6 separate regions of the Homo sapiens genome follow, and regions 2, 3, 4, 5 and 6 are each linked to region 1. The links come from fine-mapping of genetic effects on gene expression. A gene starts in region 1. Each other region holds a variant in brackets. All regions are shown on one strand. Distances are from middle to middle.

Region 1 (5,389 bases):
CTATAGGAAATTAAGCTGCTCGTTGACACAATCAGTCAAAAATATCTACTATGGCCCAGTTACTCATGGTAGTTTTAGTTAATGAATTAATTAATAGAAAAACAAAAGAATGAGAAGTATTCATTAGTAGCCTCTACTATTAATAGAGGTGCTTAGACAGGGAAGCCAAAAAATTGCCCTCAGAGTCCAGCCTCCCAGAGCTCATAGTCTATTTTGGGAGGCAGGTCCTGAAATTACATCCGAGACAGGGAACAACTGCAAGGAAAGTGGGGCCAGCCCAGCCCCATACATTTCAGGCTGCCTGTAGGAGCCAAACACACAGTGCAGGCTGGCTTCTCTGCAAGCAGGCCACTGTCCCATCTGTGCCATGAGGAGCTGGGCTCAGTGGTTCTCAACCCTGACTGCACATTCAAAACACCTGGAAATTTGACAGAAACAACACCTATGCCTGGGGCCCCACCGGAAGGGATCTGGCTTCAGAAAAGGCAGGCAGGGAGGTTGGCAGTGGTCTTTGGTGAAGCTCCCACACACAATGTTGACCTGCAGCCAGAGTTGAGTCCCCCCAGCCTACATGCTCTGTAAGTTCTGAACCTGGTTCTAACGGTTTCCCTCCTTAGGCATCAACTCAGCCCCAAACTCCCCAGTGAATGCTCCCGCAATGGGGAGCGCATTAATTTCACCTGCCATCACATCTCAGACCCATTTTTCCCAAGATGCGGTTCCAAAATAACCTGCATCGGGTATTTGTTAAGTGCTGATTCTTAGGTCACCTTCCAGACCTGCTGCATCGGAACCTCTACAGATGGGGACTCTGGAATCTGTTTCTCAAACACGTTCTACAAGTGATTCTCAGGAACAATCAAGTGAGCGGACCATGTCCCAGACTAAATGAAGCTCCCAGGCACACCTGGAGGATGGCTAGAGGCTGGGCCAGAAAGCGCACAAACACTAGAGAGCACCTACTTGTGCTCAGCACTGGGACAAACCAATGAACAAATAGGACAGGTCACTGCTCTCAAGGCACCTAAGCATGGAGCTGAGCACAGGCCAGTCAGGGCGAGGGTGCTAGCATCCCTAGCAAGGTGCTGCTGCTTGTCATCCAGAGAGGAGAGACTCTTGAGAGCCAGGGGGATCCAGGGTGTCCTCCTGGAGAAGGTGGCATTGCCCTGGGCTTTGAAATACAAATAGACTTGAAACGGTTGGAGATGTTACATTCTATTGTATGGTATTTCTGTTTTCCGAGGAGATCATCAGTGCAAATAAATAGTAAGGCATTACAAAGAAGGAATACAGAGATCTGGGGGGAGATAGCAGCTGCACGTGTTCGGGGTACTTGGGCGAGGGCAATAGTAAAGAGGGGCCTCAAGGGATTTGGTCATCTTCCCGACTCAAGGGCAATACCCACTCCAAGCGCTGGTAGCTCCCTGCCATGACCACTGACCTGAACACATTTAACTTCCCTGGGTTTCAATTTCCTTATTTGCAGAATGGAGACATTGGTAGCCACCACAGGACTGTTACAGGACAAGGGAAAGAGCTGTGAGCAGACCCAAACGAGTGTTAGAGCATCCAGAGCCCTATGCTAATGTGTGCCCTGCCCAGTGTCCTTAGGGAATTTCTTTTCCAGCCAATGGTGACACCGCAATTTCTGCATAGCAAAGCCTTAGGCAGCATCAGGTGGACACTGGAGAAGGAAAGACTTTGTCTTGAAGTTGCTCTTGCATAGTGAACTCCCAGGCATGTCACCAATCAATGAAAATAGTGAAATTTTCTTAAACGTTTCAAATCACATCTTTCAAAAGAGGAATACATATAACTTGTCCCACAGCAAAGAATAAAAGCTACACATAAATCTCCCTTTGCCAAATCATGTCTTTCATCTATCATTATCTTGGGGGTGCTTGGAGATATGATTCAGATCATGGGTCAGACTGAAAAGAGTTCCCTTGGTGCCTGCACTGAAGGAGGCTTATGAAAACACCAGCTACTCTTCCTTCTTCATTTGACTATCTTTTCTGATACGTAGATTTTTATTATTATTATTATCGATTCCACAAAGCTACAGGGTATGGCTCCTGGCTAAGTGGAAACCCTCTTTCCTCTCCTGATTTATCTTTCTCTGCAGAACTGGGGTCCTGACTCACAGCTATTGTTCCTTCTCTTAATTTTGACAGATCCTTCCTCTTCCCTTTCCCCTCCTGAGACACCCGCTCCAGTGGGAATCTGCCTTGGAGGGGTTGGGGGAGGGGGTTCAGGACGCCTGGTGAGAAGAGGAGTGTGTGTGTGATTTCTCTGCTGCCCCACACAGAAATACCTGTATGTATTCTAAGCACTACATGTAGGGACTTAGCTTCTTGAATTTAGAGAAAATATCCTTGACATTCCTCAAAACTCCTTGTGTCAAGGCCATTTCCATCCTATTCTGTTCCTTTTCCTACTGATTAAGACGGGGCAGATTCAATACAGCCAATGTTGGATAAAGATGGGTGAATGAATGAATGAATGAATGAAAAAAGACACAACTTTCAAAGCACATCATCTACACGCCCCGTTTTTCAGAGGCCCTGATTCCTCTCTACCTTCTGCACCCATCTTCCAACTTACCCTTATCCCCACTACCCAGTAAAAGCTCGGACTTTATTTCCTCTGGGTGTCAGTCTTAGAAAAGTGATAACCGCTGACCTACGGCACTTTCGCTTTTCCAATTTTTCAAAGCCCTGTGGCATTTATTGTGCTCTGCTTATTCCTCATCGCCCCCCTGCAGAAGTCGGGGCTGGGATTTCCGTCCCTGCTGACAAAGGGAGAAACTGTGGCCTGGACTAGGGTTAGCTCCGGAGCAGGGGCTTCAGACCCGCCAGTGAGCGCCGAGAGTCGGGTAGCACCCGAGCATGGGCGCGGCAGCCACGGGGCTCTCACCTCGGAAAGTCAGGCTTGCGACAGGGTCGCTGCGCCGGTCCTTCTTCGCACTGGGGAGGTTGCTGGCCCTCACCAGCAGGCAGCACAGCATGGCTGGGCAGCCCCGGCGGCACACAGGCGCGCAGTCAGGGCGGGAGCGGGAGCACCGGGCCCGAGCACCCACCCAGCAAGCGCCCGGCTCCCAGGCAGCCGCGCCAAGAGAGCTGTCGCCTTCGCTGCTCCTCCGCGGAGAAGTGACCAATGCCTGGGAGAGGCTGCAGGGAGGACACCGGACACCCGCTGGGCGGACCCTCCCCCTCCGGCCCCTACCCAGATCCGCCCTGCCCGCGGCGGGCGGGGAGGGACAGGGGTCAGACGGGCGCCTGTGGGGGTGCTGGTCCCTAGCTCCGCGGGTCCCAGCTCCCGGCCAGGAACGAGGCGCCGCTGACGCGGGCGCGCAGCTCGGCCTCCGAGAGCGCACAAGGCGCCGTGGGGCCTGCTCCGCGGGGGCCTCCGGTGACCAAGGCTCCACACCAGCCAGGGATCCCGGGCCCGGTGCGCACCGGTGCCGACTTGGCAGCCGCCCTGTGCGCTCGACGAAAGGGTGAGAAGGAGGCAGGAGTGCAGGCGGAAGGAGTGGGCAATCAGCGGCGGGGACGAGAGTGTGTCTTCGGGGAAACCAAGTCTGAGTGAGCGCTGAAGGGGGAGTGTGCGGAGCGTGCCGTGCACCCCGAGCCCCCCGCCTCATTGCCTCTCGCCTCTCTCCACCTGCCCCATGATCTGCGCCAGGGAGCCGGTCCTCTCCCGTCCGCAGGCTGTCTAGGTGGCCGTTCTGGTTTGCTGGGACCCCCGGGTCGGGAGAGACTCCGAGGTTCGAGTCCCCACCAACCCTCCTCGGAGCCTTCTCCGCAGCGGTGTCGAGTCACTCATCTCTGGAGGCAGAGATCTGTATTCAAATCATACTGCGTTCCCTGGAGAACTAGGGTCCAGCTGCGGCCCATTCTGTCCCCTGCAAGTCCCCCATCCCCAACAATCTCTACACTCCCTAGTCTCCACAGTGGAAAGCTGTTCAAGGTGTAAGCCATGAACGGTGACAGTCGTTTCGCTTATTATGTCTGGTTCCTTTCCAGCGTATGAACTTCTTGACACAGGGGCCCTGGCTTCGCACTTCTATCCCCCAGCACTCCAGCACCTAGCCCCTGTCAGGGCACTGTCCGTCTTCCCACCGCCCAAGTCCTCACTAACCAACCTGCTCACTCAGCCTAAACGCACTGCTGCGCAAAATCTCAACTCCCTTTCCCCTCTCTTATTTTGAGGGATACAGCATTCTCACAGGGCTAAGCCATAACCCTGGCGAATCCAACTCCGCCTCCTCCACACCTGCCCCCAACCAGTGCTGTGTTGGAGAGTAACACAGCCGGCCTGAGTGGTGCCTTTTGTAGTCATGACCCTTAACTCAAGCGAGCCCTCACTGCTGGGGGCAATCATACTATATGTCTTGTCTCCCTGTCTCCCGGATGCCCCTAGGACACCCCATCGCCCAACCTCACTCTCAGTTTGCTTCCTCTTTACGGAGCAGAGAACTTCTTCAGGTCCCCAGTCTCCTTCTAACGCCCGCCCTCGGCATCTGTGCCCAAATCCTGTGAGTTCTCTCCTGTTCCTACAAATGAATCACCCGTACTCCCCACTGGTAACAACTGGACACTTGGGCATAGACCCCATCCCCTCTCGCCCATTCAGTGGTGAGCCTGCAGTGATTCTCTCACTCTCTTGCCTTACCAAGTTCCCCTGTTTACCGGATCATCCCATCGGCACACAAGCATGATGTTATTGCTCTCAAGAAAGCACACCGTTGACCCCACATCCCCTTCAGCTACTGGTCATTTCTCCCTTTTCACAACAATGCCCTTTGAAGGAGCTCTCCATACTTTCTGTCTCCAATCTCCCTCCTCCATTCTCTCTTGAACCCACCCAGTGACACCTTCAACCCCACCAGGTCACCAAAACTGCAAATCCCCCTCCCACTCTCCTTCAAAATATGTCCAAAATCCCACCATATCTCACCATCTCCATTGTAACTGCCCCCAGTGGAAGCCTGTCATCCCTTGCCTGAGTCATTTAATCGACTCCATGGACTCCCAATGCGTCTCCTGCTCTGCCCTTGTCCCCATGGTCTATCCTCAATTCAATTCTCATGACCTGGTTCTACTCAAAGTCTTCCGTTGGCTCCCATCTCACTCAGTGCAAAACTCAAAGGCCTTACGTGACCTTGAAAGCCCTGGCTGACCTCGCTGACCTCCTCTCCAGCCACTCTCCCCTTACGTGACCTTGAAAGCCCTGGCTGACCTCTCTGACCTCCCCAGGACCCATGCTAGCCTTCCAGCTGTTCCCCAGACAGGCCAGACCAGCGCCTCCCCAGGGTCTCTGTCAGCTGTTCCCTCTGGCTGGCATGTCTTCCTTTCCTTCAGATATCAACTCCAGTGAGACCAACCCG
Region 2 (5,389 bases), 110 kb after region 1:
GTTGTTTAAATGGCAGAAGTAGAACTCAAAAGAATCACTTTCTTAAAATTAACTGTTTACTTTTAAAAGACAATCAGGTTTTAATAATATTACTATTTTTAAAAATTACCTTCTCGATGGGAGGATCTCAGGATTCCAATCAGGATACCTATTTTGAAAATAAACAATATTAACTAACAGCTAAAATCAGACTGTAAGGCTCAATTAATCTTTACCTGTAATATATCAAAAGGACTTTTCACAACTTTTATTGGAAATAAAATATTTTGAGAGTTTAATTCAATAAATAATCAAAGTATTATGCTAATAGGTGTATCAGGGAAACACACTCCCCATACTTTAAAGGCCTAAACTTTCATTTAAGTAAACCGGCCAGCATATGCACAGAAGTGTTAAGAGGTACAAGATACGAGCTTAGGTTAAGGGTTAAAAGAGAGAAGACAGTTCATCTACTTTACAGAACTCTAGGGAACACCACTCCTATCATATTCCATATGGCAACTCACAGAATACAACATGAATGGTGCCCCTTAACTTGCCCCAAGTAGTCCTCATAAAGATATGTCCACTGAGAGGAATCAGGAGAGAACTCATAGAAAGGGTTGCTTTTCAAGTAGCCCTTACAAAGATCTATTAATAGGAATGGATCAGGTTAGATTTCATGCAGTGGCAATATGTAAACTAAGATTGGAGGCAAAACATCGGTGTTTTGTTCCAGGAAGTGGTCTGGCTACAGCATAGACATGATGAAAAGGAATTATAAAGGGGGAAACTTGGACAGGCTGTCTGTTGTTTCAGGTAGAGACAAATTACGAAGAGCCTTAAAATCAGGTAATGAGGTTACACACAGGAAAAAAACAATGGGAACTTAACGAACATTTGTAAGAGAAGATAACAGGAATGTTTTCAGAATAAGTGTAAAGGAATATCTGGAATTAGGGGAAAAGATGAGAGCTGAGATATTTAGAAATCAGGCATGTAGAAGCCGCAATTATAGCCCTAAGAGTGAGACTAACACAAGATGAAGTTTATAGGAAAAAAGAGAGCCGAGGACAGAATCTTAGGCACATCGACAACTTTAGAGTAAAGCAAAGAAAAAAAATAATAAAAGATTAAGAAGCAATCACGGAAAAACTAGTAGGAGAAACAGTAATATCATAGAAGCCTAAGAAAAAGGCTGTATCTTCACTCTCAACTTCTAGAAAATCTGAACTCTAAGAGGCATCTGGACATGCTGATTATATTAAATAAATAAATCACTACATTTAAGAATAAAATTTCAGCAGCAAGATGAAAGCCAGGTAAGGAAATGGAGGCAGCAAACTTCTGACAAATCACCTAGCAGGAAAATAACGTTAGGTCGAACCTTATTAAAGTGGTTTGTCTTGGTTGCTATTTGCCTCAGACATTGTTAATGAGCTAACCCCACAGCAATTCTCAATTCCCTTTTCCCTTGTTTGCCTTTATTACAATGGCAAAAAAAAAGCTAAATATTTGCTTTCCCACTATCTCTAGAAGACAGCCAGTGGTAAGTTCTAACCAATGAGATACAGGTACAAAACCCCTGACAGACATCTGAGAAAGCGTCTGCCTCATTCTTCTTACTTTGAGAATAGATATATTGTCTGGAGCATCTTTTAATTATGAGAGGACAAACTGTGAAGACAAAAAAGTTAACTTTAATCCAACATACCCATCATCTAGTGTCAACAATTCCCAATATATGGATAATTTTGTTTCATCTATTTCCACACTTTTTAAAACTTTCATTGCTCTGTACCACCCAGGAGGATAAATTCCTAGTCTTACAGTGATTCAAAGCAAATCTTTAATCATCAAACAAAACTGGGTTTCACTATAGGTGCTGTCATTTAATGGCTAAGAAACTTAAAGCCAGTTACTTAGAATGTGTAAGCCTTAGCTTTCTCACATGTATATGCTGGAAATGAAGGTGATTAACAACACATCAAAGTTATTAAATTTCCAGGGGGTCTCTAGTTTATGGTTCACAAGAGCTTGAAGACTAATATTCAAGAGCTGGTAATAATGGTGGAGCATGGTGGCTCATGCCTGTAATCCCAACACTTCGGGAGGCTGAGGTAGGCAGATCGCTTGAGCTCAGGAGTTTGAGACCAGCTTTGGCAACCCTGTCTCTACCAAAAATACAAAAAATTAGCTGAGCGTGGTGGCACTCACCAGTGGTCCTAGCTACTCAGGAGGCTGAGGTGGGAGGATCACTTGAACCCAGGAGGTGGAGGTTGCAGTGAGCTGAGATAGCAATAAATAATATTGTTGATCTTCATTAGGTTCAGGTTCACCAAGTTCAGACCTGTTCACTAGGTAACACATGTTCTCATCTCTGCTGCCCAGAGCAGAAAGATAAAGCATGTATACATTCTGCAAGCAGAATTTGGAAACACCTCTATACTGCCCAACTAGTCAAAAATGTGCTTCAGAAGCAATAACGCTCCCAACAAAGGTGGTATAACATTAACTATTAAGAGCAAGGACCTAGTTAACTGATATTATCTTTGTCCCAATGTGATGCAATAAATACACATCACCAACGAAGCATTTGCAACAAAAATGTTCTCAGTGAATTTAATGCTAAGGAAACAAATAGAAAACTATAG[G/A]AAGTGGGACATTCAACAAGTTTCCCAGACATTTCAAGGAAAAAATCAACACCACAAAAACATCCTTCTCAAACAAAAAAAAAAGACAAACAAAACAAAAAACAAACGAAACAAAGAGTAGGCTATTCTAGATTAAAAGAGACTGTAATGCATAAATCTTAACTGAATACTGGATTGAGGGTATGGATGGGGCAAACAAGAAGAATTATAAAAGGCATTCTGGAAAGAAATGGGAAAATATGAATTTGGCTTATATATTAGAAGGAACTGTGGAATTATTGTTAATTTCCTTAAATGTGTTGTATTGTGGTTATGCAGAACATCCTAATACTTCGGAGATACATGCTGAATTTAGAAATGATGTCCCATAATGTCTGCAATTTATTTTCAAATAGTTCAGAAAAAAATGTATGAAGATATAATAAAGCAAATATTAACAAATGGTGAATATAGATGAAGAACACATAAATGTTTTTCTTCCTTTTTCTCTTCAATATTTTATTCTGAAAATTTTTTAAGCCATAAAAAAGTAGAAGGGATGATAAAGGCCCATGAGCTAAACTAGTTCCATTTAACTATGTGCTGCATGATGGTAGGGAAATTGTCTCTGTGCCTCACTTCTCTCATTGATAAAGTCTGGAATAATCCTTATACTTAACACCTCGTAGATGGTTTTGAAGACTAAATCAATTATGTAAAGCACTAAGAATGCCCAGCACACAATAAACACAGCATAATTACCTATTTTTAATATTAAAATTCTGATGCACTGTTATCTTTCCTCAACTACTCTTGTATCATAATCCAGAAAGAGCCAATAAAGCCAGAGAGAATAAGCCACAAGAAAAGAAAAATCTAAATATACATCAATGGAGGAATGAGTAGAAAGAAGGTATATCCCTATAACACAGCTTAAAAGAATAAAGAATGCAGATCCCAAGCACCTAACCAAATCTATTTATTAAATTATTTTGCAGTGGAGAGAAAGTTATGAAGCAATTATTCAAGTGCATACAACCTGAATGTGATGGTTAATTTTGGGTGTCAACTTGACTAGATTGAGGGATGCTTAGATGGTTGGTGAGGCATTGTTTCTTGGCATGTCTGTGAGAGTGTTTCCAGTGAAGATTAGTCTGTGAGTCAGTGGGCTGAGTAAGGAAGATCTGCCCTCAATGTGGGCGGGCATCACGCCATAGGCTGGGAGCCCAGATGGTACAAATAGATGGAAGAAGGTGGAATTCCCTCTCTCCACCCCTCCTTCCCTCAGAGCGGGATGCCCTTCTCCTCCTTGTTCTTGGACATCAGAACTCCAAGTCTTATGCAACTTGCATCAGCAGGCTCCTGGGGCTATAGGGCCTTTTGCCTCAGACTGAGAATTATGCTATCAGCTTCCTTGGTTTGGAAGCTTTTGAATTTGGACTGAGCCACACTACCAGAAACCCAGAGTCTTCAACACACAGACAGCATATTGTGGGACTTCTCCGCCTCCATAATTGTGTAAGCCAATTCCCCTAGTAAATCCCCTGTCATATATCGATACATAGGCATACCTCAGAGATACTGTAGATTCAGTTCTAGAACATCACACTAAGCGAGTCACATAAGTTTTTTGGTTTCCCAGTGCAAATAAAAGTTATGTTTAGACTATGCCAGTCTATTAACTGTACAATAGCATGTTTTTAAAAATGAACATGTATTAATTAAAAAGTACTTTATTGCTAAAAAATACTGATCATGAGCCCTCAGCAAGTCAAAATCAAAGATCACTGATCACAGATTGCCATTAACAGGTATAGTAATAATGCAAAAATTTGAAATACTATGAGTGTGACTCAGGGACACAAAGTGAGCACATGCTGTTAGAAAAATGGCACCGATAGGAAAGAGTCCTGACTGACCCAGTAGAGACAAGGGAAGAGGGAGGCCCTGGATCTGCCATTGTGATCAGAGTGAGGCCAGGTGAAGAAAAATGTGCAGAAGGTAAGAAACTGTGAAGGCATCATGAGGCCTGGTTAGGAGACACAGCCTGGAGAATTAGGAAAGACATACTGTTATTTTAAATTTCAAACCACAGTTACCTGTGTAACGAAAGAACCCTTAAGCCCCACAATAGGAAAAAGTGGAAACTGACCCAGAGGATGCCAGATCGAAGGATATATCCAGTTGCAGTTCTTACCAGCATACAGGTGCTAATACACACACTGTTCATTTTCAGCTTCAGCTCTTGATTGCTTTTGGCAGCAAAAGCACTGCTCAAGGCCCAGACGAGAGAGCGATTTGGTATTAGGGGAAACTGATTAAAATGGATTCTTGAATGGTGCTCCCCAAAAGATACATACATATATATGTTCCAATCCCTGGAACTTGTGAATGTTACCCGATTTGGAAAAGGATCTTTGCAGATGTAATCAAACTAAAATTCTTGAGATGAAATCATCCTGAATTATCCAATGGGCCCTAGATCCAATAGCCAGTGTCTTTCTAATAGCAGGGCATAGGGAGGTTTAAGGGAAGAGAAGGTGGTGTGAAGACAGTAGCAGAGATAGGAATGATAGGCTACAAGCCAAGGAATGTCAATGATTGTCCCCAGTCACTAGAAACTAGGAGAGAAGCATGGAACAGATTTTCCCCCAGAGCCTCGGAAGGGAATGGTGGCCCAACTAACACCATGATTTCAGACTTCTGGACTCTAAATAGAAATTTATTCTCTCCCAGTTTAAGTCAAAAAGAAAAAAACAAAAAGAAAAATGGCACCA
Region 3 (5,389 bases), 300 kb after region 1:
GGCTGATCCTGGTGTGCAAAGCCTGGTCATCTCACTTCCATTCCTATTCTGGGCCAAGCACTCCTGGGGCCTCAGTCTCCTGCCCCTGTGCCAGCCTATGGGTGGTAGGATTCTGAGGTCCATGCTGGGTTAGAGCAGTAGGTCTCAGCCAGGAGATATTGTCACAACTAGGGAGAAGGTGCTGCTGGTATCTAGTGGGTCAAGGTCAGGGATGCTACTAAACATGCTACAGTGCACAGGACAGCCCTCAGAACAGAGGTCTATCTAGTCCAAAATGTCAAAGAGAAAGCCTGGGTTATGGGAAGGGGTGTCCTCCAGAGAGCATGGCCTTAGATTTTCAGCCCCTCTAAGAATGAGATGTTCCTTGTTTATTTTCTCCATCTCTCATTGGCCTAGTTGTAGGGGAGGGAAGAGTTAGACCAGGGTAGGATCCAAGCACTCCTGATCCTCTGAGCCAAATATGGTTCTCCAGATAGCACAATTTCCTCTAAAAATGCAGTCCGAGATGGAATGGGTAAGAAACCTGCTTCCTTCCATCTTCTAGTACATTGGCTTTAAAAACTCATCGTAAAAATATGAAAAAGACATTTACTGTAGCACTGTTCATAACTGAAAAAGATAAAAAAAAAAAACAAAAAACCTAAATGTCCACTTAAAAGGACCGGATAAATAAATTATGATACATTCATGCAGTGGAATTATATGCAGTTGTTAAAAGAGTGAGGTAGCTCTAAATATAATGATATGAAACAATCTCCAAGACATATTATTAAGAATCCCATGGCCAGGCACAGTGACTCACACCTGTAATCCCAGCACTTTGGGAGGCCCAGGTAGGAGGAGGGCTTGAGCTGAGGAGTTTGAGACCAGCCTGGGCAACATAGTGAGACCATATCTGTACGAAAATAAAACAATTATCTGGGCATGGTGGTGCACACCCGTGGTCTCTGCTACTTGGGAGACTGAGGTGGGAGGATCACTTGGGTCCATGAGGTCCAGGCCGCAGTGAGCTATGACTGTGCCACTGCACTCCAGCCTGGGTGACAGAGCAAGACCCTGTCTTGAGAAAGAAAAAGGATACCAGCAAGATGCAGGAACAATATGCCTGGTGTACTAATACTTGTATGAAAATATTTTAAAATACTATGTAAACCTAGATGCTGAGTGTGAATTAGACACGCTCAGAAAAGACACTGGTTGTCTCTTGGGAGGGGAGCTGGGGCTGGGACGGGGAAGGGATAGAAGAGAGATTTACTATTCACTCTAGGTCCTTTGCAGAATCATCATTGTGGTATGTTTCATTGAATAGAAGTTTAAATACCTTACTGAAGTCAAATCTATCACCATTTTTCTTTTGAGCTTACACTTTTAATATTTTTTTCTTGAGACAGAGTCTCGCTTTGTTGCCCAGGCAGGAGTGCAGTGGCTCAATTATAGCTCAATGCAGCCTCAAACACCCAGCCTCCAGGGATCCTCCCACCTCAGCCTCTTGAGTAGCCAGGACTACAGGCATGCAGCAGCACACCCAGCTAATTTTGCACATATATATACACACACACACACACACACACACACACACACACATATATATATATATAGAGAGAGAGAGAGAGAAAGAGAGAGATGGGGTCTTGTTGTGTCACCCAGGCTGCTCTGGAACTCCTGGGCTCAAGCAATCCTCCTGCTTCAGCCTCCCAAAGTGCTGGGATTACAGGCGTGAACCACAACACCCAGCCACTTTCAGTATTTTATTTAAGAAATTACTTTCTACATGTTATGGACTGAATGTTTGCGTCCCCTCAAAATGTATATGTTGAAATCCTAGCCTCCAATATAATGGTGTTAGGAGGGGGGGCCCCTGGGAAGTAATTAGAAGGGAGGAGCTCGCATGATGGGATCAGTACCTTTATAAGGAGAGATTCAGGAGAGTTTCTTCCTGTCTTTCTTGCTCTCTGCCGTGTGAGGATACAAGAAGATGGCCCTCTGTGAACCAGCAGGTGGGCCCTCCCCAGGAACCAGCCATGCTGGCACCCTGATCTTGGACTTCTAGCCTCAAGAACTTGGAGAAATCAATGTTTGTTGTTGAAGCCACCCAGTCCATGGCATTTTGTTAGAGCAGCCCCAACTAAGACACTGCTCCAATCATAAGGATATCCCCCTACGATTCCTTGTAATTGCTTTCAAAGTTTTGCTTTTCACAGCTAGATCTTTAATCAACCTGGATTTTATTTTTGGTATGATGTGAACTAGGGATCTAGT[T/C]GTATTTACTTTCCATATGGAAAATCAATTGTGCCAACACCATTTGTAGAATATTCCATCCTTTCCCCAACAATCTACAATGCAACTTCTGTCTCATTCCAAGTTTCCATGTGTCATGGGTCTTTTGCTGGGTTCCTGTTCTCTTCCAGTGGTCGATTTGTAAATCCCCTTGACAACACATCACTGTCCTAATTCCTATGACATTATAGTATGCACACAAATCTTAAACGTTCCATTACCCACCGACCTCTATGTTACTCTCATTCTTTAAAAATATTTTCACTTGTGGCTGGGCATGGTGGCTCTCACCTGTAATCCTAGCACTTTGAGAGGCCAAGGTGGGCGGATCAAGAGGTCAGGAGATCGAGACCATCCTGGCTAACACGGTGAAACCCCATCTCTACTAAAAATACAAAAAATTAGCTGGGCATGGTGGCGGGCACATGTAGTCCCAGCTACTCGGGAGGCTGAGGCAGGAGAATGGCATGAACCTGGGAGGCGGAGCTTGCAGCGAGCCGAGATCGCACCACTGCACTCCAGCCTGGGCGACAGAGTGAGCCTCCATCTCAAAAAAAAAAAAAAAAAAAAAAAAATATATATATATATATATTCACTTGTGTTCCACTAGAAGCAGAGCCTGAGTCAAGGATTTGGGTGCAAGCATTTTTTTAGAAGGTGATTCCAGGAAGCCCAGGTAAGAGGGTGGGAAGTGAAATAGGTAAGGGAAGAAAGCTAACAGACAGTGCATTAACGAGCAGGTTGCCACAAAGGGTAACTGGGGTTCAATCTCACTGGGCCCTTCAAAGTTATTCCAACTGAGGGGTGGGGAAGCTGCAATATTTATCCACCAACTCTCATTCCTCATGGCTGTTTTAAAATGCACTGAACATTTATTTTAATCAGATATGGTAAGACACACAGACATGGACATGACTGTCCTGAAGGAAAGAGTTTTTTTATACTCAAAGTTTCCTAGAAACAAGAGCCACGGCATGCTATGCAGGGATACATAGGGAGGCACCAGGGTTGGTCAAGAAGTCAAAGGAGTGAGGGGAAAACATGGGCAAGAGCTTTATTTGTGGCATCCAAGGGAAAGGCAAGGTAAGCAGGCACAGGATTAGCTATTAATAGTTTGAATAATTTCATTCCGCTCTGGGGCCTAGGGCTCTCCCCAGTTGTCTGGCTCATGGCCCTGGGATGATGAGGGCAGAGGGACAGTGGCCCAGTGTAAGAGCCCGATGAAGGAAGTGGTTGGGTCTACGGGCTTTGGATTGGCTGGTTTGCATATGGGAGGTGCACTTGCAGGTGAGTCCTTTACTATCTCTAGGAACTGGCTAGCCCTGGGAGGAGCATTCTCTCCAGGATCAGCAAGGCTCCAGCTGTCAAAACATCAGGAAATACAGGAAATGAAAAGGAATGATGAATACATTGAGTGTGCTCTTGAAGGCATGTATGTGGCTGGCAATGCTGAGGGCTATGGGGAGGGCACCAATGGTGTCTGCTACACTATTCTTGGCCCCTCAATGACTACATGAATTTTAGGATCAGCCTGTCAAATTCCACAAAAACTTCTATTGGGATTTGTGTGGGAATTGCTTGAATTTATAGATTAATTCAGTGAGAAGTAATATGTTTATAACATTGAGTCCTACTATTCATAATATATACAGTATATATTTCAATTTAGTCAGTTCTTCCTTTAAGTCCCTGGGTAGTTTTTATATTTGTCTTAGTCCCTTTGTAGTGCTATGACAAAACACCTGAGACTAGGTAATTTACAAACAACTGAAGTTTATTTTCTCAGTTCTGGAAGTTGGGAAGAACAAGATCAACGCTCCAGCAGGTACAGTGTCTAGTGAGGGCCTGGTCTCTGCTTCCAAGATGGTACCTTGAATGCTGGTTCCTCTGGAGCAGACAATGCTATGGTCTCATGTGGCAGAAGGCAGATTTACCACCATCCCTAAGCCCTTTTATAAGGCACTAATCTCATGCATGAGGGCTTGCCCTTATGACTTAATCACTTTTTAAAGGCCCCACTTCTTCATACTATCACCTTGGCAATTAAGTTTTAACACATGAATTTTGGGAGACACATTCAGGCTATAGCAATACTCTTCATGAAAGGTCTTGTGTATATTTTGCTAGATATATTCTCAGGATTTTGTTGCTATTGTGAATAGAATCTCTTTTTCTATTACATTTTCTTAATTTGTTATTACTGATGTATAGGAATGCTAATCTTTTTTTAAGTTGATCTTGAATTCAACAACCTTGCTAACTCTCTTACTAGTCTTAATAATTTATCTGTATATTCTTCTGGATTTTCATCATAGGCAATTATATGGTCTGCAAGTACAGGAATTTTTCTTTCCAATTTAAAATTATTTCCTTCGTTTTTTTTTTTTAAGATGGAGCCTCACTCTGTCGCCTAGGCTGGAGTGCAGTGGCACGATCTTGGCTCACTGTAACCTCCACCTCCCAGGTTCAAGAGATTTTCCTGCCTCAGCCTCCTGAATAGCTTGGATTACAGGCACCCACCACCATGCCCAGGTAATTTTTGTATTTTTTTTTTAGTAGAGATGGAGTTTCACTATGTTGGCCAGGCTGGTCTTGAACTCCTGACTTCAAGTGATCCTCCTGCCTTGGCCTCACAAAGTGCTGGGATTACAGGCATGAGCCACTGCACCTGACCTTTATTTACTTTATATATCTCACCTATTACTGCTGCAGTTTGCAGAAGAGAGGATGCCCTCAAACCTAACTTCTCCAAACCATCCCAAAGGGGAAGTCTGCTCCACATCAACAATGTTATTGTTTTTAAAGACCATAAGTCAACATGTTAGATTATAGCAAAATGATGTCCAAGGGGCAATATGAAAGCAAGACTGAGAGTCCTGGAAAGAAGGTGGCAGAGCTGCCTTTTTAAAATTGTCATCCCCTCAGACCCTACCCTTCCTGCCTTCTTCCTCCAGTTGTCAGATTTGCCTGTTGGGGTCCACATGGGGAAGGAGATAGGGGGCTGGACTGAGAGGGAGATGGAGAAGCTGCCAGAGGCCCTTTTGGATCCAGAATTAAGGCAGCAGTTCCAGCTAGGTCCAGAGGTGGGGGCTGCCCCCCAACGCCCAAGGGA
Region 4 (5,389 bases), 100 kb before region 1:
ATGTGAGCAGGGAGGCAGAAAAGATGCAACTTGACAACATACGTCCTCCAAGTCCCAGACAGAAGGGCAGAGCCCCAGAGTCAGTGTCCTGCCACCACTGCACCCCACACTTTCCCTTTGGAAATCAAAGCATGAAGTCTCCGGAGGTAAGAGGGGGCAAAGAGAAACATGCCCCACCTGTCCCTGAGCACCAGGTGCCTCCAGAGACCAAATGTCTAGACCCCACCTGCCCCTGAGTGCCTGCTTTACCACATCGGTGTAGTTGTCACTCATGTAGATCCACTGGCCTCCGGGAAGCCGGGTCTGGTTCTCAAACACCTCTTCCACGAAGCTCAGGTGACCGGCGTCCATGTCATGGAGCAGACTGTGGAGGAGGGCTGGTCAGAGTCTCTGCTGCTCTGCTGGAGAGGCCCCCATCCATCTACCACCTCCTGGAGAGCACCCCTGCGTATGTCAGCCTCACCCCAACCAACAATGAGAGACATGGGGGGTGGGGAGGGAAGGGTGCAAGAGACCAAGGCAGACAGTGAAAAGGAGACCTAGGGACACTCCGAGATAATCGGGGACAAAAGAGCACATCACCCAAGATAAAGAGAAAAGGGGGCCAACTGAAGACAGCAAAAGGAGGATGGGCAGTCGAGGCTTGATGGATAGTTGTAAAAATATAAAGTTTTATCAAGTTGTGCTCATAAGATTTGAGTGCTTGACTGTATAATATGTTATACTTCAATTTTTTTAAGTAAAAAAAAGTTAAACACCACAGAGTTGAATGCCAACCAAACAGGAAAAGGAGAGGAGAGAGAGGCAAAGGCGGCAATAGACATGGAGAAGGACCACGTGGATCTGAGAGGGACTGACAGAGAAAGGACCACTCAGGGGATGTGTGAGCAGCCCAGACACGAGAAGGGTTCACGTGCAGAGGAGGTGATGGGCTTGTCCTGGGTGTCTTTGAGGATGGGGCCACACCCAGTGGGCACCACACAGAACGAAGGCTTAAGAATAAAGGCCTGGGCCAGGCGCGGTGGCTCAAGCCTGTAATCCCAGCACTTTGGGAGGCCGAGGCGGGTGGATCACCAGGTCAGGAGATCGAGACCATCCTGGCTAACATGGTGAAACCTCGTCTCTACTAAAATACAAAATAAAATTAGCTGGGCGTAGTGGCAGGCAGCTGTAGTCCCAGCTACTCAGGAGGCTGAGGCCGGAGAATGGCGTGAACCCGGGAGGTGGAGGTTGCAGTGAGCCGAGATCGCGCCACTGCACTCCAGCCTGGGCGACCGAGCGAGACTCCGTCTCAAAAAAAAAAAAGAGAGAGAATAAAGGCCTGGCCAGGCGTGGTGACTCAAGCCTGTAACCCCAGCACTTTGGGAGTTCAAGGAGGGAGAATCACTTGAGCCCAGGAGTTCAAGACCAGCCTGGGCAACACAGTGAGACCCTGTCTCTACAAAAAATTTAAAAATTAGCCAGGCATGATGGCGCACGCCTGTGGTCCCAGCTACTCAGAAGGCAGGAGCAGGAGGATCACCTGAGGCCAGGAGGTTGAGGCTGCAATGAGCTGCGATCATGCTACTGCACTCCAGCCTCCAAACAGAGTGAGACTCTGTCTCAAAAAAAAAAAAAAATTTTTTTAATGAAAAGAATAAAGGACTGTCTGACCATCCAAGCCCTTCTGGAAAGGACTGCTGCCTGGCAAGCCTCAGTCCTGGGAGAGTTCAGCGGAAGTTCCTATGACCAGCGCAGGAGCAAGCAGAGGGATCAACAGACCCCAGCCTGCCTCCAAAAGGAGGGTGCAGTCCATGGTGGGCAGCCTGGCCTGGCTCTCCCCAGCCCTCCCTGCCCACGACTCACGTCTTCTCCGGACACACGAACCAATCTCCAGCCCAGGTCCAGCCGGCCGAGGGGCGGAAGCTGTCCTTGGGTAGCTTGATCTTGCCCGTGACGTCAGAAAACTTGGGGTAGGTGAGGCCCGTTGTGCCCCAGTTCCCAACAAGGGCCAACTTAGTCTCGTTCTCATACTGGAGGGCCAGGAAGAATGAGGCGTGAGCAGGGGGCCAAGGCAGCTCCAGGTAGTGGGAGGCAGAGGTGGGGGCTGGCAGGTACTCACGGTTTCAGCAAAGACAGACAGCTTCCCCTCAGCAAACTGGTTGAACTCCTTCTCATCCACTGAGAGCCCAAACCACAGCTTGACCCGTATCTGCACTGGCATCCGGGCGCCAGGCACCTTCTCCATCGGATACTGGGTACCAGAGAAGGACAGAAACCCACAGTCCCCTTCAGGATCCGGATGTCCCAGTGAGAGGCTGGGGAGGAGGA[G/A]TCCTCCAAGCCTGGGTAGAGCAGGCTGACACCCTCACTGGGAGTGTCCCCTGTGGGAGCGCTTACCAGAATTGCATAGAAGGGGAGTGTGCAATTAAGAAACGTCCACCCCACCCCCTACCCCTCACCAAGATTCCTCCCCATCAAAGGCAAAGGCTACATCATTCCCTCCTAGGAGCGCTCTGCAGAGAAGAACCATGTCTAGCCCAGGACCTCTCCTCTCCCCTTCTCCCACCACAGCCTCGCTTCCATTTTCTTCTGGAACAGTGCTTGCCAATGGAACTTTCTGCTATGAGGAAAATGGTTTATATCTTCACCATCCAATATGGTAGTCAACTAGGCCCATGTAGCTACCGAGCATTTGAAATGTGGCCAGTATGACTGCGGAGATAAAGTTTTCGTTTCATTTACTTTTAATTAATGTAAATTTAAATAGCCATCTGTGGCTACCATATTGGACAGCACAGTTCTAAAACTTGTCTCTAAAGGAGATACAATGATACAGATCTGGAAAGAGAAGAAATTAAAGCCTCCCCCTCCATGTTTAGTATTTTATTTCTTTGGTTACTGTATCATCTAATATCCCTACCCTTTCAAGTGATTATCAGCATGTCAACCACTATTCACTGGTCTTCAACTGCTTTTTTTCCTGAAACTTTCAGAAGCTCTGCCAAATGGAATAACCACAACAACCCAACATGAAACAAAAATTATTCTCCACAATTACTTCACCATTTGATTGAAACCAAAGGTCAGACATGGCCTGAGGAGCAGAAGCTCCTGCTCTTAAAATTCACATTGTCCCCTAGAGGAGGCAACACATTAAGTACCCAGGCCTAGTGTCATGAGCTCAGAGCAGTATAGCCAAGTGAGAAAACGGGTGGGTTCAGAAGATGAAAGGGCAGCTGAGGTAAGGGGTCCCACGCTGGTCAGGGAGGCCTGGATCCCTGGAGGGAGAGCCCAGGGCAGGTAGGAGGCTCAGGAAGGGGCAGAGGACATGCCAAGGCTAGGGCCACCTCACGCTTCCCTCCTGCGGACACAGCCCCCCTTCTTTTGGTTCATCTTCAATGAAGCCTGTAGGAGCCCCTGAGTCCACGTGTCATGCCCCGGGGAAACCTCTCCATGGCTGTTCGCTTCGGCTGTCCTCTCCCCCGGGTGGTTAACTGCCTTTACCCTCCAAACCACCAGCCCCAGGGAGATGGCAGGAATGCCTGACCCCCACTTCCCCCATCCACCCCCGGCTCTCTCCCCTGTCCTCCCCGAGACGGGGCCAGCCTGCTGGACCCAAAATAGCAACAGCAAATAAAGAAATGTCTAGTTTGGGGCTCCTCTCTCTCTCTGCTGGTGCTCATTTTTTCCAACTTTGGTTTAAGTTAAGAAACACCAATGTTTTCTTGGTCTCTGCTTGCTGCCAACATTTTTGTAGAGCTTGCTCAGGAGCTACTGGCGGGGCTCATAAACTCAGTGGGGAAGACTTCGAGAAACAATTCTATATCTTTTTTTTTTTTTTTTTTTTTTTTGCTTGAAACCAGGGAAAATTTTCAGTTTGCATTTCCCTGAGGCTACATGGCCAAGAGGTCAGAACCTGGAGCTCATCCCCTCCCAGCAAGTCCACCAGGCACAATTCAGCAGCACCCCCCGCCCCGCCCCCGCCACTCTCGCAGACCGCCTTCCCCGGTCAGCCCCACTCAGATATGGCCACTCCTTGACTTCCTTTCCTTTCTGCCCTACCAGGCCAGGAACTGGCTTAGGAGGTAGACTCTCAGAGGTTAGGCTCTGACAAGCACAGGAGGTTAGAATCTAATGGGAAACATGCCCCAGGTGGCATGTGAGCAGGTGGATGGGGGCAGCCTGCTGCCCAACACACACACACACAGACACACTCACTCACACAACTGTGTGCAGACATCTACTATCCCTGGCCTTGAGTTGGCCTCCAGTCATGGCACGCATAGAGCAGGGGAGCTCCCCAAAAGGAAAAGGGGAGAGGTGGGGAGAGAAACTAACATCCATTGATCACTTAGTTCCAGCAAGACCCATCACCTGTGTCACCTAACTCAACCCTCAAAACCTGTAAAGTGGGCAGCCCCACCCACCCTCATTTTACAGATGATAAGACAACAGGCAATTCAGAGAGGTTAAGCAACCTGCCCAAGGCCACATAGAGCTCCAACCAGCCCTGGCATCCTCTGTGCTACTGAAACCTGCCCTCTCCACACCCCCCAGGGGACAACAAGAGGACTGGCCAATATATGAATGCATCAGCATCACTCAGGGGGCTCTGCTTCAGGGTTCCAGGCTAAAGTAAGTCAACAACGACTTCCTGGAAGAGGGGAGGAGGGAGGAGAGATGTAGGGAAGGGGAAGGTCCAGCGTGGAGGGGCTTTGGGGAGGTGGACTAGGCTGGATGAAAGTCTGGTGCCTTAGGCTGAGGAGTCCTTGAATGCTAGTAGAGCTATTCAGGGCAAATGAAAAGAGGTAAGGAGGGCTGGCGCGGTGGCTCACGCCTGAATCCCAGCACTTTGGGAGGCCAAGGCAGGCGGATCACCTGAGGTCAGGATTTCGAGACCAGCCTGGCCAACATGGTGAAACCCCATCTCCACTAAAATTAAAAAAAAAAAAAAAAAAGAGCTGGGTGGGTTGGCAAACGCCTATAATCCCAGCTACTCAGGAGGCTGAGGGAGGAGAATCCCTTGAACTTGTGAGGCGGAGGCTGCAGTGAGTGGAGATCACACCACTACACTCCAGCCTGGGCAATAGAATGAGATTCCAACTCAAAAAAAAAAAAGGTAAGGAGCAGGCCTGCTTCTCAGGGCCACTCCTCCCCAAGCAGGGGCAGCCTTGCTGACAGCTCTTCAAGGAGGGCCCTCCCTTGGGCCTGGGCAGCCATCGTGCAGGGAGGGATCTCCCGCATTGTGTCCTGCACGCCAGGCCACACCATGACCACAGCAGCTTTGGCTCTATGTCCGCGCATGAGCCTAGAGAGGAGCACAGATGGGCTCTCCCCAAGCACCCACTCACCTCCCTGTCACCCGTCCCCAAAGCTGGTGACCCTCCTGGAAAGGAGGAAGAGGGAGCAG
Region 5 (5,389 bases), 200 kb after region 1:
CTAGCTGGTTATTTTGCAGCCTTGTTTATCTGGTTGCTTTATAGTGTCACTGGTCTGTGTATTTCAGTGTGTTTTTGTAGTGGCTCGTAATGGTTTTTGCTTTCCATATTTAGGGCTTCCTTTAGGAGCTCTTGGAAGGTAGGCCTGGTGGTGACAAATTCCCTCAGCATTTGCTTGTCTAAAAAGGATCTTATTTCTCCTTCACTTATGAGGCTTACTTTGGTTGGATATGAAATTCTGGGTTGGAAATTCTTTTCTTTAAGAATATTGAATATTGGCCCCCAATCTCTTCTGGCTTGTAGGGTTTCTGCTGAGAGGTCAGCTGTTAGTCTGTTAGTCTGGTCACCTTTGTAAGTGATCTGGCTTTCTTTTTTTTTTTGAGATGGAGTCTGGCTCTGTTGCCCAGGCTAGAATACAGTGGTGCAATCTCGGCTCACTGCAAGCTCCATCTCCTGGGTTCACACCATTCTCCTGCCTCAGCCTCCCAAGTAGCTGGGACTACAGGTGCCCGCCACCACACCCAGCTAATTTTTTGTATTTTTAGTAGAGACAGGGTTTCACCATGTTAGCCAGGATGGTCTCGATCTCCTGACCTCGTGATCCACCCGCCTTGGCCTCCCAAAGTGCTGGGATTACAGGCTTGAGCCACCGCGCCCAGCCATGATCTGGCCTTTCTCCTGGCTGCTCTTAACATTTTTTCTTTAATTTCAACCTTGGAGAATCTGATGATTATGTATCTTGGGGTTGATGGTCTCATGGAGTATTTTACTGGGGCTCTCTGCATTTACTGAATTTGAATGTTGGCCTGTCTTGCCAGGTTGGAGAAGTTCTCCTGGTTGATATCCTGAAGTTGGTTTTCTAACTTGGTTCCATTCTCCCCATCTCTTTCAGGTACCCCAATCATTTATACGTTTGGTCTCTTTACATAATCCTATATTTCTCAGAGGTTTTGTTCATTCCTTTTCATGCTATTCTGCTATTGATACTTGTGGTTGCATTGTGAAGTTCTTATGTTGTGTTTTTCAGCTTCATAAGATCAGTTATGATCCTCTCTAAACTGGCTATTCTGGCTATCAGCTTCTGTATTGTTTTATCACGATCTTAGTTTCTTTGCATTGGTTACAACATGCTCCTTTAGCTCAGCAAAGTTCATTATTACCCTCCTTCTGAAGCCTACTTTTGTCAATTCAGTTATCTCAGCCTCAGCCCAGTTCTGTGCCCTTGCTGGAGGGTGTTGTAGTCATTTGGAGGAGAGGCATTCTGGCTTTTTGAGTTTTCAGTGTTTTTGCATTGATTCTTTCTCATCTTTGTGGGCTTATCTGCCTTCGATCTTTGAGGTTGCTGGCCTTTGAATGGGGTTTTTGTGGAGTCTTTTTTGTTGATGTTGTTGTTGTTTTCTGTTTGTTTGTTTGTTTTACTTTTAATAACCAGGCCACTCTACCAAAGGGCTGCTGTGGTTTACTGGGGGTCTGCTCGAGACCCTAGTTGCCTCAGTTTTTCCCATACCTGGAAGTATCACCAGTGAAGGATACAAAACAGCAAAGATGGCAACCAGCTCCTTCCTCTGGAAGCTCCATCCCAGGGGAGTACTGACCTGTTGCCTGCCCCAACATACCTGTAAGAGGTGGCTGGAGACCCCTGTTGAGAGGTCTCACCCAGTCAAGAGGAACGGGATCAGGGACCCGCTTAAAGAAGCAGTCTGGGCCGGGCACGGTGGCTCACGCCTGTAATCCCAGCACTTCGGGAGGCTGAGGTGGGCGGATCACGAGGTCAGGAGATCGAGACCATCCTGGCCAATATGGTGAAACCCTGTCTCTACTAAAAATACAAAAATTAGCCCGGCATGGTGGTGCATGCCTGTAATCCCAGCTACTCAGGAGGCTGAGGCAGGAGAATCGCTTGAACCCAGAAGGTGGAGGTTGCAGTGAGCTGAAATTGCGCCACTGCACTCCAGCCTGGTGACAGAGCTAGACTCCATTTAAAAAAAAAAAAAAAAAAGAAGCAGTCTGGCTGCTTTTTGGTAGAGTAAGTGTACTGCATTGGGGGGACCCTTCCTCATCCAGATCATTTGTAGTCTTTTGGCCAGCAGGCTGGAACGGCTGAGTCAACCAAACCACAGAGATGGCAGCTGCCCCTCCCCATGGGAGCTCCATCCCAAAGAGGGATGAGAGTTCTATTTTAGAACCCTGGCTGGAGTGTCTGAAGCCCCTGGAGGGAGATCCCGCCCAATGAGGAGGAATGGATCAGAGTCCTGATTAAAGAAGCAGTCAGACCACAATCTAGCAAGGCCGCTGTGCTGCGTTGTGGAGGACCCTTCCTCGTTCGGACTATTTGTATTCTTCAAAGCCATTAGGCTGGAACAGCTGAGTCTGCTACTGAACTGCAGAGATGGCGGCCGCCCCTCCCTCTCTGGAACCCAGACCCATCTCAGGCAGATTCCAGCCTGTTGCCATTGGCTGGCTGGAATTCCAAGCCAGTGGGTCTTAACTTGTGGGGTACGATGGAAGTGGGACCCACAGAATGATGCTGATTGGCTTCCTGCATTCAGCCCCCTTCCCAAGGAGATGTAGGGAGGGATTTCCCACCTTGCCAGGGATCCCGGGGCTGGAGTATGTAAAACTCCCTAGTCTCTGTGTGTGCCTCAGCTGCTGCTCTGCCAAGATTCCACACAGCTCTCTGCTTTGGACCCAAGGCCCAGGTGGCATGGGCTCAGGAGGGGAACTCCTGATCCATGGGGTTGCAAAGATCTGTGAGAGAAGC[G/A]TGGTTTCCCAGGCAGGGTCGCACAATCACTCACTACTTCCCTTGGCTGGGGATGGGGGTTCCCTTGGCTCCCTGTAGCTCCCAGATGGGGTGTCGTCCCCTGCCCCCTGCTTTTCTTCATTCTCCGTGGGTAGAGTTATTTGCCTAGTTAGTCCCAATGCAAGAACCTGGATATTTAAGTTGAAGGTGCTGAATTCACTCGCGCCTTTACATTCCCTTCAGTGAGTGCTGTGGACTGCAGCTCCTTCTAATCGGCCATCTTGCAACAGCTTTCAAATCTTTCAGTCTTATATCCACATGTCATTTTCTTTTCCTTTTTTTTTTGTACAGAAGACTAGATAATATGCATGACATGGTTAAAATTTTCAATTGTGTCAAAAATATATGCAGTGAAAAGACAGTTTTCATCCTCCACTGCCTCCTGCCCCCAGCTTTCTTTCCTCTTAGACTACCACTGTTGACCAGTTTCTTGCATATCCTTTCAAAGACATTCCATGGGTTAAGAAAAATTATAAATGTATATATGTATGTATTGACTATATTGTAAGGTACGGACTTAAAACATTCCATATATGTTACCAAATTAATATCCATATATAGTTCATGTCAGTTGTGGCTCCCATAACAATTTGTCAGGACCACTGTTTCAACACGTCTCTATACAGTACATTATCAAATTTAATTTTTAATTTTCTATTCAGTTGTTGGTCTTTTTAAAAATTGTAGTGCATAGATATGTATACATGCATATATATATATATAAAATAATGAAAGTAGTCCAATATGAATAAATTACTTATCTTTTACCCCCTTTGTCTTTTGGCTTGTTTACTGTATTTTTGCAGTGAATTATTATTATTATTATTATTATTGCAACAGGGTCTCACTCTGTCACCCAGGCTGGAGTGTAGTGGCAGCCACAGCTCACTGCAGCCTCAACCTCAGGGGCTCAGGTGATCATCCCTCCTCAGCCTTCCAGGTAGCTGGGACTACAGGCATGTGCCACCATGCCAGGCTAATCTTTTGTAGAGACAAGGTTTTGCAGTGTTGCCCAGGTTGGTCTCAAACTCCTGGACTCAAGCAATTGGCCCACCTTGGCCTACCAAAGTGCTGGAATTACAGGCATGAGCCACCATGCCTGGCTGAATTATTTTTGATTTTCATATAGTCACATTACTTTTTCTAACTTTCTAGGGTTTTTTGTTGTTGCTTTTACTCTTTCCTAGAAAGGCTATCATATCCCCAAGATTTAAAAAAATTCTCCTATGGTAGCATCTAGTCTGCTTGATATCTATATGGTTATAGTATATAATATACTGTATGTATATGTGTATATATATGTGTATATATGTGTATATATATACACACACACCAATATACTATATAATGCAAATAATCTATTATAGAAATAATATCTGTTATGACAAAGAAATAAATTAGGGCCGGGCATGGTGGCAGCAGTTTGGGAGGCTAAGGTGGATGGATCACTTGAAGCCAGGAGTTCAAGACAGTGAAACAAAAACCACATGATTATCTCAATAAATGCAGAAAAGGCCTTTGACAAAATTCAACAACCTTCATGCTAAAAACTCTCAATAAACTAGGTATTGATGGGACGTATCTCAAAATAATGAGAGCTATCTATGACAAACCCACAGCCAATATCATACTGAATTGACAAAAACTGGAAGCATTCCCTTTGAAAACTGGCACAAGACAGGGATGCCCTCTCTCACCACTCCTATTCGACGTAGTGTTGGAAGTTCTGGCCAGGGCAATCAGGCAGGAGAAGGAAATAAAGGGCATTCAATTAGGAAAAGAGGAAGTCAAATTGTCCCTGTTTGCAGATGACATGATTGTATATCTAGAAAACCCTGTTGTCTCAGCCCAAAATCTCCTTAAGCTGATAAGCAACTTCAGCAAAGTCTCAGGATACAAAATCAATGTGCAAAAATCACAAGCATTCTTATACACCAATAACAGACAAACAGCCAATTCACGAGTGAAATCCCATTCACAATTGCTTCAAAGAGAATAAAATACCTAGGAATCCAACTTACAAGGGATGCAAAGGACCTCTTCAAGGAGAACTACAAACCACTGCTCAATGAAATAAAAAAGGATACAAACAAATGGAAGAACACTCCATGCTCATGGGTAGGAAGAATCAATATCATGAAAATGGCCATACTGCCCAAGGTAATTTATAGATTCAATGCCATCCTCATCAAGCTACCAATGACTTTCTTCACAGAATTGGAAAAAAGTACTTTAAAGTTCATATGGAACCAAAAAAGAGCCTGCATTGCCAAGTCAATCCTAAGCCAAAAGAACAAAGCTGGAGGCATCACGCTACCTGACTTCAAACTATACTACAAGGCTACAGTAACCAAAGCAGCATGGTACTGGTACCAAAACAGAGATACAGACCAATGGAACAGAACAGAGCCCTCAGAAATAATGCCACGTATCTACAACTATCTGATCTTTGACAAACCTGACAAAAACAAGTGATGGGGAAAGGATTCCCTATTTAATAAATGGTGCTGGGAAAACTGGCTAGCCATATGTAGAAAGCTGAAACTGGATCCCTTCCTTACACCTTATACAAAAATTAATTCAAGATGGA
Region 6 (5,389 bases), 280 kb after region 1:
GGAGGCAGAGGGAGGCGGAGTTTGCAGTGAGCCAAGATTGCACCACTGCACTCCAGCCTGGGCAACAGAGCAAGACTGTCTCAAAAAAAAAAAAAAAAAAAAAGTCTGTGAGCAATATAGTTTTCATACAACTCATATTCTGAACAATCTTGCCCTGTGGTTTGCTAAGGTTTTGGATATTCACAAGAGAGTAGAGAACCAAAGAGAGTACAGAAAGATGAAGAAAAATAGAGATTGTGGTATCCAGCCTGGTCTGATGGAGTACCCTGGTTTTCACCAAGTTAAGGTACTCAGTGAATTGAAAAATTATTCTTGGAGTTGAACTTACAGGCCTCTGATGAGATTTTGGAAAGCATCAGGAAGGAAACAAGAGTCCAAAGAAGGAAGGAGAAGATGAGCTTGCTCAGGGCTATGTCAGGTGCAGTTGAGATAACCTAGCAATAACAGCCTGAGTTACAAGGAATTTTCTTTCTCTCCCTAAAGCTAAGGGGAAGGTACTGATAATGATGGACTGGGTAAGTTTTAAAATGCAGCTTGCCTTAGGATTTACTATCTCTTGGTTCTTATTTCAGAGCAAAAGTAACCTGAACCCAGATGCCAAGGAGTTTATTCCAGGAGAGAAGTACTGAGCCGAGAAAGCTTTGAGGAAGACTTGTCTGTCCCCACATCTGGGGATAGTAATGCACAAAATGGTGGAGCTGAAGAGGGGGATGGGGCGGGCGAGGGGTGCACAGCGGGAAGGGGAGTGGTGGTCTCACAATACTGTGACTCTGAGTAACTAATATGCTCAGTCTTATTCTAAGCCTCTGAGTATTTCTATTTTGTTCTGCTGACTTTTGTTTGGGGAGTTTCCTGTTTTGTTTTTTTAAATAGCTCTTTCGAGTTAAGGAAATTGCATTTTCCCCCCTTCATCAGAAGTGTTCCGCGGTGTGTATTTAAACAAAATAAGCTGACTAAGAAAAACTGGATATTTAGGAAATGCCCCTCTCACCCTGCTGTATACTTATCAGGGACAGTGAGCACCTGGAGAGCTTTTTGTGGAATCTATTGAGTTGGATGGGAAAAGGGACAAGCAGAAAGAGCAGGTGGTGCAAACTGGAATTTGAGGCTCAGCTGCCCCACCCCCGGGGTCTCCTGCAATGAACTCGGATAACCAATGTGCTGTCAAGCCCTTGCCTGTTTGTCCTGAACCCCATTCAAGAAAACACAGACTTAAAGTACTTAGTTTACAGTAACTTTTGATGATTGTTGAAAGTTGTAAATCAGAAGGTAGGGCTGTGATGGTGGTTGTCACTTGAGTCATTTAGTTACTGTTGTCCTGTTCATAAGCCTGTGTTCACCACCACCATCAGACTCACCATTTATAAGTAGAAGAGCACTAGGGTTGATCTGCCACCTCATCTTTCATGAAGTCTATTCCCCAGCCTCCTTTTTAAGAAAAGATACTGCTACCAAAGGCATAGGGGAGGCCTGCTGTGCTGGCAATTAGCATGAGCCTGCAGAAGTCATCCTTGAATCTGTTGTGTCTTAATTTTATTTGGACAGTTTTTTTTTCCAGCCTCATCAACACTTGGTCTTCCTGGTGTCTTAATTCCCTCAGACAAGTTTATGCACTTTTTTAAGGAAATATTTTTCAGGACACTAGTAAGAAGCTCAGTTCACAGTTTGGATATTTCTTCCCACATTACAGAATTATGGAAAGGAACTCAAAATCAGCCTAGGAAAGTGAGTCCTGCTTGACCCATGTGACTGTGTACCTGACCTTCTGGGATCTTTTCAGCTATTAAAACATTTTACTGTTCCCACATACCCAGCTTTGCAAGTTTTGTAGATTGACCTCTTAGGGTGTGTTTCTTTGTCTTTCCTGCCTTTAACTTGCTGGGGTCTTTTGTTGCTACCCCTAAGGAACTAAACTGGGTGCCAGGAGCTACCTTCGTGTATAGAGATGTAGATGGCAGTGTGGGGTACAGGAGAGCCATCCAGGCCATTCTCCCAGGGATGAGGAATTGGAGAGCCCTGAAGATAATAGTGGCTTCTTTCTGATTGCTACTGTGCTGTGTGATAGGCCTAATAGGGAAAAGATATGTAACTTGAAACAAAGTTGGTATAAATTCAGTATGTGGCTGTGGGACAGAGGTTGGAAGGAAAGGACTAGGGTATGGAAAGCTGAAGAAATTCTCCTTATGAGCTCTCGTTGACTTTTTGAACAGTGATAAGCTAATGCCAGATTTAAAATACACATTTTTTCCTATTTGAGTCTTTAGGATTATATCATTTGAAAAAATTGCCTTCCTTGTTAGGTCACATGTCATAGGAGAGTAGCTTAGAGAACTTGCATTACCAGACAGACACATTAATTCCCAAAGCCTCTATGTTGAGAGAATGAAACTGTTAACTCTTTTTCAGAGAGGACTATGAATAAAGAAACTTCTTTATTCAAGCTTCAGCTTTCAGCTGGGTTGTTTC[C/G]TCTAAAAGGGAAAGGGCATTGCAAGTGCATAGAGGAAATCTCTCCCTTCTGGGACTGCTTTTCCTCCTTCATCCTCGTGAGCCTGTCCAAGCTCAGAATTCCGAAGGCTGTTAGAAATGCGTTGGGATTGCAGAGAGAAAGGAGCTTGTCTTTCCTTCTGCTGTGCTGGTCTGTTTTGGATGTCAGTCTTCAGGACTATGAAAACTTCCTGCCAGTTTAGCATGGACACTGAGGGCTGGCATTTCTAGTCTTCTTCAGACACTGAACATACTGACTCCAGGTATAGGAAGCAGCTAGCAAATTGATTCTTTTTTAAATGCATAGGACTCTGCTTCCGGCGGTTCCTCTTGTAGTCCAACTCTTTTTGCCATCTATTTATGTTGGGAGGTAGGGGCACAATTGTCACTCACAACACAGGCTAGTTAGAGTTTGCTACCTTCTTAGCAGAAAATGCATGTGTGTCTTGTTGGACCTTCACTGGGGAAAGGCTGGGAGCCTCTGGCTGTCAGTGACTTTTCTCACAGAAGAAGAACCAGCAAGCCAGACTGGACACCTTTACCCTTTAATGGTAAGACTTGTATTTATAAGGGGTAATTTTGATGTTGAATTTAAGCCACTACTTTGTTTAAACTTTTTTAAATTGGCAACTAGAAGTTTGAGAATTTGTATAGAAATGGAACATGTATTTCTAACAGTTGCCAATCTGGCTGGTCCCAATGTTAGTTTATTAGTGATTGATCTGTAATTATTGGGATTATTTATTCAACTCTAAAATTCCAAGATGAAAATAATTTATCTCTTTCTTTTCAAGGGAAAAAACCCAAATGAATGCATTTTCAGTTTCTCCAGGCCTTTGAACTGCAGCAGAAAATTCAAGGATACAGCCTAGGCCTGGGCAAATGCAGCCCTGGGTCTTTGGGCCAGTTTCTGACAATAATAGTTGAGTTTTGGGAATCACATAAGGGTGAAACCAGAAACGATCCTAAGGAAAGGCTTGACCTTTGTTAACACCTTTAGTTTCCAAAGTCACAGCAGCTGGGGTCCCTCTTTTTTTTTTTTTTTTCTTTTTTTTTGAGACATAGTCTCACTCTGTCACCCAGGCTGGAGTGCAGTGGTATGACCATAGCTCACTGCAGCATCAAATTCCTAGGCTCAAGCAATCCTCCCATCTTAGCCTCCCGAGTAGCTGGGACAACAGGTACGCACCACCACGGCCAGCTAATTATTTTTATTATTTTTATTTTTTGTAGAGACTGGATCTTGCTCTATTTCCCAAGCTACTCTTGAATTGTTGTGCTCAAGTGATTCTCCCATCTCAGCCTCCCAAAGTGCTGGGATTATAGGCTGGGTGTGGTGAGCCACCCCAGCCTGGGGTCTCTTTAATTAAGGTTATAATGCTAACCATGGCTTAAAATACTAAGCAACATTTTCCAAATTGTTTATTACTATTGCTTTGATTTTGGAGAAGCTGGGAAGTAAGGAGGTGAGGTGAATACTCTGATAATTAACACGTGTTAGAGAGGAAAGTTGTGTGAAGAGGCTGCCAAAGTAAACAGCACGAATGAATCTTCTTGTACTAGGGCTGCTGCAAACCCCAGGTAGACAAATGACAGCCCAGGCTCCTGAACCATCAGGAACCCAGGAATCTACCCAACTGTGAGGAGGGGGCAGGCCTTCGTCAATAAGGGTCCCACCATCACGGGCTAATAATCTTTCTCAGTTTAGGTGATATTGAGGTATTGAAACTGTTAGAAATCTGACAGATTTGACCAAGATTTGGAGACGTCCACATAATTGGGAAGGACTGAGTGTCCCTAGCCACTCTCCTCTGGGATAACGCGGACGTCATTAGTTTGCGAAGTGGGTGGGGAGAACAGGAGGATTGACTCTAATTTGGTGTGTAGTGGGGGCCTTGATGTCCTTCTGCCTCTGTCCACATTTCCCCATGTGACTCATTGCACCCTGCATTGCTCACAGGGATCATTAGTTCTCCCGGTAGACAGAGCACCTCTGCAGCCTCTGCTCTGCTGCCTTGTGAATTTCCTACACAGACTTGGTTAGTTACAATTTGGAAACAGTTTTTTTGGGTTTTTTTCCTTTGTTTTAATCTTCTCACAATGAAGCTGCTATTGGTGACAGGGACAGGGGAGCAGGAAGCCAACCCAGGGAAACATGCGAGTTTCCTGCACACCACTTAGTCACCTGCCCTCACTGGCCAACCCCCTACTGCTGTTCCCAGTCAGTCTGGTTTTTAGAGGCATCGTGGCAATAGAATAGCTGGATACACTAATCTCTACAAGGTGTCAGGCAGGAGATTCACCTTCCCCAGTCCCAGGGGACAGGAGAGAAATCTGTAAAGGGACAGATGCACCATCTTTATTTCAAAAGAAAAAGCTCCCTCAGATTGTGTTACTAGGAGTCTCTTTTGTGACATTTACTGAGCTTTCTCCCCAATCTTACCTTCCTATTGGCTACTTTTTAAATAAAAATAAACATTTTAGGCTAATATGACAAAAATGAGATAAAATCTTAAAAACATTGTACTAGTGTACAGTTACTAAAATGTGCTTACTACAAAACAGTAAAATATTTCACTCTGTAAATCATCACTAAGTAGTTATTCTGTCCTGTTGATTATGAGCCTCCAAAAATGTTTAATGCTTGAAGGATGGTTTGGGAGGCAGGGAATCCTTTTCTTAAAACAACTTTAATGAGGCATATGTTACATATCATAAAACACCCATTTCAAGTGTACATTTCAGTGATTTTAGTAACTTCCCTCAGTGGTGTAGCTGTAACTATTACTCAGTTTTAGAACATTTTTATCCCTCCCAATAAGATCCTTCATGCTCTTTTACAGTTAATCCTGTTCTTACCCCCGGCAACCACTAATCTACTTTCTCTATAAATTTGCCCTTTCTG

The links. PIP is the estimated chance that this variant, and not a neighbour inherited with it, causes the effect. A credible set is the group of variants that fine-mapping cannot tell apart.
Region 2: its variant is the best candidate, but not a certain one, in a credible set for the expression of DYSF in whole blood (INTERVAL, PIP 0.55).
Region 3: its variant is the best candidate, but not a certain one, in a credible set for the expression of DYSF in whole blood (TOPMed, PIP 0.52).
Region 4: its variant is the best candidate, but not a certain one, in a credible set for the expression of DYSF in whole blood (INTERVAL, PIP 0.74).
Region 5: its variant is the best candidate, but not a certain one, in a credible set for the expression of DYSF in whole blood (TOPMed, PIP 0.63).
Region 6: its variant is the best candidate, but not a certain one, in a credible set for the expression of DYSF in whole blood (INTERVAL, PIP 0.75).

Annotation. Positions count from the first base shown.
Region 1 is chr2:71,464,461-71,469,849 of GRCh38, reverse strand. It overlaps DYSF (dysferlin), which reads right to left and starts at 3,151. Exons shown (of 56, transcript NM_001130987.2): 1 at 2,917-3,151. The coding sequence starts at 3,007.
Region 2 is chr2:71,357,912-71,363,300 of GRCh38, reverse strand. It overlaps ZNF638 (zinc finger protein 638), which reads right to left. Exons shown (of 28, transcript NM_014497.5): 4 at 110-148. Among named protein-coding and RNA genes, the nearest start is that of ZNF638, 29 kb to the right of the region's middle. The variant G/A (reference allele first, on the strand shown) is at 2,634.
Region 3 is chr2:71,167,309-71,172,697 of GRCh38, reverse strand. No RefSeq gene overlaps it. Among named protein-coding and RNA genes, the nearest start is that of MPHOSPH10, 39 kb to the right of the region's middle. The variant T/C (reference allele first, on the strand shown) is at 2,260.
Region 4 is chr2:71,564,795-71,570,183 of GRCh38, reverse strand. DYSF (dysferlin) reads right to left here. Exons shown (of 56, transcript NM_001130987.2): 25 at 2,102-2,233; 26 at 1,846-2,012; 27 at 250-364. Among named protein-coding and RNA genes, the nearest start is that of DYSF, 100 kb to the right of the region's middle. The variant G/A (reference allele first, on the strand shown) is at 2,311.
Region 5 is chr2:71,266,664-71,272,052 of GRCh38, reverse strand. All of the region lies in intron 2 of LOC105374797 (a long non-coding RNA gene), which reads left to right. Among named protein-coding and RNA genes, the nearest start is that of PAIP2B, 42 kb to the right of the region's middle. The variant G/A (reference allele first, on the strand shown) is at 2,761.
Region 6 is chr2:71,183,719-71,189,107 of GRCh38, reverse strand. It overlaps PAIP2B (poly(A) binding protein interacting protein 2B), which reads left to right. Exons shown (of 4, transcript NM_020459.1): 4 at 573-5,389. The coding sequence ends at 629. Among named protein-coding and RNA genes, the nearest start is that of PAIP2B, 41 kb to the left of the region's middle. RefSeq lists enhancers at 4,144-4,643, 4,644-5,145. The variant C/G (reference allele first, on the strand shown) is at 2,467.